Linked DNA regions of Homo sapiens. The protein of the gene in region 2 purifies or fractionates together with the protein of the main gene of each other region. This does not show direct contact. Each region holds a gene or a part of one and is shown on either strand. Other genes may lie near its edges.

The links. The genes of interacting proteins can lie anywhere in the genome.
Region 1: the proteins of SCHIP1 (region 2) and CYTH3 purify together in Homo sapiens (affinity purification with mass spectrometry; one large-scale study listed by BioGRID and IntAct). This does not show direct contact.

What each region holds. Positions count from the first base shown.
Region 1 is NC_000007.14:6,266,054-6,269,708, reverse strand, and holds part of CYTH3 (cytohesin-3), read left to right. Parts: intron 1-3,655. UniProt on the Homo sapiens protein: Promotes guanine-nucleotide exchange on ARF1 and ARF6. Promotes the activation of ARF factors through replacement of GDP with GTP. Plays a role in the epithelial polarization.
Region 2 is NC_000003.12:159,276,094-159,279,748, forward strand, and holds part of SCHIP1 (schwannomin-interacting protein 1), read left to right. Parts: intron 1-3,655.

The DNA.
Region 1 (3,655 bases), on a different chromosome or scaffold from region 2:
GGGCACAAGATTACAAGAACACATTGTTCCTTACAGTGTGTGCAGAGTGTAGTTAAGTCGTTTTTAATTCCTATGGGACTTTGTTGCCTTTCAGTTTTTCGAGAACAGTTCTTGAGCTAATTGGAGGGTAGCTGGCTAGTTTGGCTCATTGGGATTGTCTTCGTGTCCTGTTTGGGCATTTGTCTGATTGATGGTCCTGAATGGACCATCCCTGGCAGATGAGGTGAATTAACTATAATTGGCATTCTTCTCTCTGACCCCTTCACTCCCTGATCAATGTAGGTGTCTGTGCTTCAGGTGAAGAGATGCTGAGCCTTGTTCATAATAAAATACATGCAAATTAAGACTAGATTGAGCTCCCACCTTTCACCTTCAGACAGGTGATAACCCCCAAGTATACAAAGTCTGTTTCAAGTTTGAAATATTTGAACGGCAAGGTCGTTTCAAACATTTACGGGTAAGAGTGTAAAGTAGCCACAGGCAGGGTCAGCCCATGTCCTGTTGGCTCAGATCCGTTTCTTGCCCTTTCCCTGCAGGGACTCACCCCTGCAGGCAACATTTCCCAGGCCCTTGGTCAGCTGGCTTCCGGCTGGGATTGGCCACTGGGAGCCACTGGCAGGAGGAATGGCAGGAAGAAGGACAAAAACAGGTTATTTCCCTTAGGCCTGCCTCAGGGAGTGTCTCTGGCAGGTACCTTGTCTCCTTTTGGCTCCAGCTCCTGCCCCTTGGTCCTAGCCTTTGAGTCTTGGAAATACCTCCTCCCTTTTACCCTCTATTTGAGAAGTGGTAACAGCAGCTTGCTCTTGATAATCTTTGTATTATCATTTCCTGTTTGGCTTTTCAGTTTTTCCATCACCCCTGTCACTAATTCCTTATATTAAATTCCCTCTATATCAGATTCTTAAAGGGATGGTTTCTCTGGATGTCTCTGTTTCTCTGGGTGGACCCTGATAGATACAGGTGCTTTAGGCAGTAGCTTTAAAAATTACAGGCGTGTAAATCCTTTGACCCAGCAATCCAGTTCTAGGAATTTAACCTGCAGATATATTTGTACACGTGTGAGATAACATAGGTACAAGATTATTTATTGCCTTGAGTGTCCATCAGCAAGCAAGAGACTTATCAGATAAATCCATGCCCAGATGGTTAATGAGGTTGTAAAGTTGTAGAAAGGAACGAGGAAGCTCTTTTCTTAGTTGACATGGAGAGATCTCCAAAATATCTTAAGTTACAAGAGCAGGCCGGGCGCGGCGGCTCTCACCTATAATCCTAGCACTTTGGGAGGCCGAGGCGGGTGGATCATTTGAGGTCAGGAATTCAAGACCAGCCTGGGCAGCATGGTGAAACTCCGTTTCTACTAAAAAAATACAAAAATTAGCCGGGAGTGGTGGTGCGTGCCTGTAATCTCAGCTACGCGGGAGGCTGAGGCAGGAGAATCGCTTGAGCCTGGGAGGTGCAGGTTGCGGTGAGTGAGATTGCGCCACTGCATTCCAGTCTGGGCAACAGAGTGAGACCCTGTCTCAAAAAAACAAAACAAAATTACAAGAGCAAAGTGTAGGAAAGTGTGCATTGCGTGCTCCCATTCTTGTGTTTTGAAAGAGGAGGTAATGGCTGATGCATGCAGATTCCCTGGAAGGTGAAAGGAGGAACCAATAACAATGGTTACCTGATTGGGGAAGATGATGGGAACTGAGTGGATGGGGAATATAGGTGGGAAGGAAACTTTTCACTATGCGCCTTTTTATTTTTTGAAATTCAAAAAAGTTTGAATAATCTGTCTTCACTTTTTCTAAAATTGGAAAGCAGTTTCATAGAAAAATAGTATGATGGTAAGAAAATACCCATTTTACACCTTTTTTGAGGGAATTTTTATAGATTAAAAAATACAGCTGGGCGCAATGGCTCACGCCTGTAATCCCAGCACTTTGGGAGGCCAAGGCGGGTAGATCATGAGGTCAGGAGTTCGAGACCAGTCTGGCCAATGTGGTGAAACCCCGTCTCTACTAAAAATACAAAAATTAGCCGGGCATAGTGATGCGCACCTGTAGTCCCAGCTGCTCGAGAGGCTGAGGCAGGAGAATTGCTTGAACCCTGGAGGCAGAGGTTGCAATGAGCCGAGATAGCGCCACTGCCTGGCGACAGAGTGAGACTCGGTCTCAAAACAAACAAACAAAATATTCTGGGAAGACCGCAACAAAAAGATAATGTGATATGCAATGTAAGGTTATAAAATGTTACCTATTTTTCATTCTGTAGTAAGTTAACTACTGTATTTTTGAGAGTTTAAAAAGTGGATGCTTTTAGATTATGCTTAGAGTATATTCTTTTGTAGTCATTTACTCAAATGTTGATGGTGTCTCTACCAAATACCAGGTTCTATGCATGGCACAAGAGCTATTAGTGCCTGTGTCATGCCGTTTTTGCATTGCTATAAAGAAGTACCTGAGCCTGGGTTATATATAAAGGAAAGAGGTTTCATGGACTCATGGTTGTGCAGGCTGTAGCTGTACAGGCATGGTGCCAGCATCTGCTCGGCTCCTGGGGAGGCCTCAGGGAGCTTTTTACTCATAATGGAAGGTGAAGCAGGATCAGGCACATCACATGGCTAGAGCAGGAGCAAGAGGGAAGAGATGCCACGCCCTTAAACGACCAGATCTCAGGAGTCCTCACTCACTATTGCAAGGGCAGCACTGAGCCATGAGGGATCTGCCTCCATGATCCTGTCGCCTCCCCTCCAAGTCCTGCCTCCAGCATTGGGGATTACAGTTCAACATGAGATTTGGGCGGGGCATATATCCAAACTGTATCAGTGCCTAACAGTGGTGAATACGGCAGATAAATTTCCCACGTTCATGGAGCTCATGTTTAGATGGAGAGACAGACAAAAGAGGTAAACAGCTATATATAAAATAATCATGTATTATGCTAGATGTGTTAAAGGAAATCAACAAGAGGTTGAGGAAGAGAAAGTGTGGGATGGGAGAGGTGTAGGGAAAGCCCGTGGCCAGGGAAGGCCTCTGAGGAAATGCCCTTCGAGGTGCAATCTATAGGGGTAGTGGACCAGACAGAAGGGAAGGCATGGAGCTGGCAAGAGCTGAGTATTCTAGAGAATTAAAAGCAGCTTTGTGTGGCTTGAACAGACAGTGAAGCGGGAGAGATAGACTGGGGCCATGTCAGGCTTTCAGTAGCTAAGGAATGCAGATTTTATTCTAAGTACATGAAGCCGCTGAAAGATTTTTAAACGGGGAAATCTCATTTGATTTACATTTCAATAATTTTAGCTAATATTTACTTGATGCTGTATGTCCTGTGTACTTTCTGCGTCTTAATTTATTGACTCTTCATCATATTGCTATTTTCAGATTGGAAAATGGAGGCATAGGGAAGCTAAGTAATTGGTCTGAAATTTCACAGCTAGCAGGTGATGGAGCTGTGATTGGAACCCAAGCCTTCCATTTCAGAATCCGTATTCTCAACCACTGCCCCCTGCTTTTTAAAGAAGCATATTCTTGACTCCTGAGTGGAGAGTGGTTTGGAGGAGAAGGGAGGACTTGGGAGAAGGGAGGTGTTGCAGTGGTTCAGGTGAGAGTTACGGGGCTTGGTGGGTTAGGGTGGTAGTGGGAAATATGGAGGGAAGGATATATATAAAACACAT
Region 2 (3,655 bases):
ACTGCTGATTTTAACCCTTTTGGCACTAAGAAAGATTAGTTCATCTTGGAAATAGTTCTTACATCCAAGGTATTCAGTCTCATCTCTGTTGCATCAGTCTCCATCACATATTCCTGTAGAAGCAACTCCCCTAGCTACAGTCCCAACAGGAGAAGTTCCAGTAGGGAAGAGCCTGAAACTGAAATGTGTTGCAAGAAGGTCCTAAATGGTAGCTTCTTAGAGGGACATAGGGATCCTTGGGGTTATTTCAGTGAGCAGGATGCTGATTGATTCCAAATGGGTTCTAGGCTTGTTTAGTATGTCTCTAACACTACAAGGGGCACAGTGGACATTAGAGGCTCAAGAGAGGTACCCTAGCATCCCAGAGAATCACTATAGATTGATGATTCATCATAAAACTTTCTATCAAGTGATTTTTGTCCTCAGTTACTACATTTTACTGTTATTCCTTTCTCTGTCCCAATTTTATTTGCAAGGTACATTCCTACTTTGTATTACATGATGGACCTAACTAGGTATGACCTGACTGATTTGAGATTTACATTAAATATTACTAGAAATGATGGAGTAATCTTACCTTTTCCAGAGAATAGAAAAGAGCTTAGGGACTTTTCATGCAAGATATACACATTGCTGAAAGTCCAGGAATATTATCCAAATAGAAATGTCTGGATATGATGCTTTTCTCACTTTGACTAATTTTTCAAATTCCAGTCCCTCTAAATGGATTTTACTCTCCCCCATAAGTAAACTTAAGTTGCAGCATGTAAAGAACAAGTACACATCCAGGCAGCCAGTCCTAGGGACGAAGTCAGCCCACTTCCATCTTGCCTAATTTGTCCTGTAATTCTGACTCTCATCTTGGATTTTTCACACCATCTCATCTACACTTTTGGAGTTGACTCACTACATCACACAGTGCCTGATTCCATTAATAAGACCCATCTTGATGCAATACACATTTTGAATCCAACATTCTGGATTGACCTCAGTAGCATGCTTCTCTGGAATGCTGTTTTAGTGCTCGATCTCTGACTCCTGTGCACCACAATGGCAGGAAAAAAAAACCCCACTTCTCCACCGGTTTCATTTTGTGTGCTTTGAAACTGATGGAACTGTACTGTGTAGAATACAATGTTGGTATAGAAAGCATGTACATTGATTACCCATGATATAGTAAATATCTATTTTTAAAAGCAGTCAAAGACAGACTCAGCCTAATGATGTGACAGTAGATATAAAAGAATATAAAGCTTCAGTGCCTTAGTGCAATTCATACAAATTTGCTTATGTTTCATTTTTGTTAAGATTCCTGGAAATATAAATACAAGCATTGTATCTGGACTTTAGTATGGCTTGGAAGAATTTTTTCTGATGTCTTGGTGGAGAAGATAAAGACCTGTGAATGGAATAATAATTTGGAGCTAGAAACCAATTTACTGACCCCTGGGCAAGGGAATTTCTATCAGAATATGTGACTAGTAAGGGACCTCAACACTGAGCAATCAGTGGAAGATTTATGGAGAAATTAAAAAATAATATTTACAGGCTGGTGCAGTGGCTCACGACTGTAACCCCAGCACTTTGGGAGGCTGAGGTGGGTGGATCACCTGAGGTCAGGAGTTCGAGACCAGCCTGGGCAAAGTGATGAAACCCTGTCTACTAAAAATACAAAAATTAGTGGGGCATGGTGGCAGGTGCCTGTAATCCCAGCTACAGACTGAAGCAGGCGAATCACTTGAACCCACTGGGTGGAGGTTGCAATGAGTCGAGATCATACCATTGCACTCCAGCCTGGACAACGAGCAAAACTCCGTCTCAAAAGAAAAAAAAAAAAGGATGGAGCTATTTTTCAACGGTATAGGAATAAAGCATTGAGCTTCTCATCACCAGAAAGATGAGTCACACTGGATGACCCACATAAAAGATGCTATAGAAGGGGACTCCCTAATGGTGTGTGTGCATGTGTAGCAGAAGGGCTATGTGATCTCTAAGGTCTTTTCCAACTTAGACATGGATAAGGGTCATCAGTGCAGTGTCATCTCATTTAAAAAAGAAAGCAATAATTTCTTCATTCAACAAATATGTACTGGGTACATACTCTTGTGATTACAAGAACTGAGATGATTAATCCTCCCTGAGCTCCTTGAGAAACCACCCACTTGAAAAGGAGTAAGGGGAAAACTGGGAAATAAAACCCCAGGTAGGTTTTATTTTAAACCTCAGGAGTTGGGAAAAACCCAGGAGGGAGAGTAAGATGCATCACTTGGATCTATTTGAGAAGGGAAAACTAGGTTAAAGGAGAAAAAAGCAGAACTGGAGTTATAATTTATCTTTTCATTATCTCTAGCATAGAGATACTACAATGCATAAAAAAGAAATGAAAAATTTAGAATTCATTGATCACTAATCAATTCTATGATTCTATTTAGGACTGTCAAATCTCTAATGAGCTTTTTTGCTCTTTCGCCTGTATCCTTTCAATCTGTATAGCTATAGCTGCATCATATACCTTTAAAGATTCTGTTCCAATTGTCATCTATTCTTTTATAAATTGGGAGAAATCCTGAAGCTGTAGACCATCAATTCAAGGGGTCAATATCAAGTCAGCATAGATACTGGCCCTGCTCTGAATTTGAATCTTTGCTTGATTAATTTATCATACATGGTGAATCTAGGCTATGCTGTAACGAAGGGATCCCCAAAAGTATAATAGCTCACAAACAGCAGTTTTTTTCCTGTTTAGGCATCAGTACTGAAAGGGGAAGCAATACAGTGGGGTGACCCTTCTTCATATAGTCATTCAGAGAACCCAGGATGGTGGGAGCTATGCCATCTTCAACACATGGCTCTCAAGACCACCTTACAGTTGTCTCCCTTCTAGCAAAATAGAAAGGAAAAAGGGCACATGTGGGAGGTTCTAGTGGGCCCATTCTGAAAGAGGCACACATCACTCAACTCACATTCTTTTGACTGAACCCAGTCACATGCTGATATGGTTTGGCTGTGTCCCCACCCAAATCTCACCTTGAATTGTAGCTCCCATAATCCCCATGTGTCATGAGAGGACCCAATGGAGGGTAATTGAATCATGGGAGCAGGTTTTTCCTGTGCTGTTCTCATGATAGTGAGCAAGTCTCATGAGATCTGATGGTTTTATAAAGGGCAGTTCCCCTGCACACACGCTCTTGCCTGCTGCCATGTAAGGTGTGCCTTTGCTCCTCCTTCACCTTCTGCCATGATTGTGAGGCCTCCCCAGCCATGTGAAACTGTGAGTTCATGAAACCTCTTTTTCTTTATAAATTACCCAGTCTCGGATATTTCTTCATAGCAGTATGAAAATGGACTAATACACATGCCATACCTAACTGCAAGGGAGGCTGAGAAATATCCTACAGGTTACATAGAAATAAGAAAATAAAATAGATTTTAGAGCACTTAGTACTTTCTGCCATACCTGGACTTCTGTTCTACTGTGGGAAGACTTCTTCCTCCAAACCCACAGTTCCTGTTGCTGTAAACCTGGTATAGCCTGCTAGATCTGCTTGATGTTAATTTTACTGCAGCCTTGACCATTGCTAATTTCAGTCTTCAGGTTGCAAACTATAGAACTTGACCCTAGGTAATTTAAGCTGAAAAATAATTTATTAGAAAC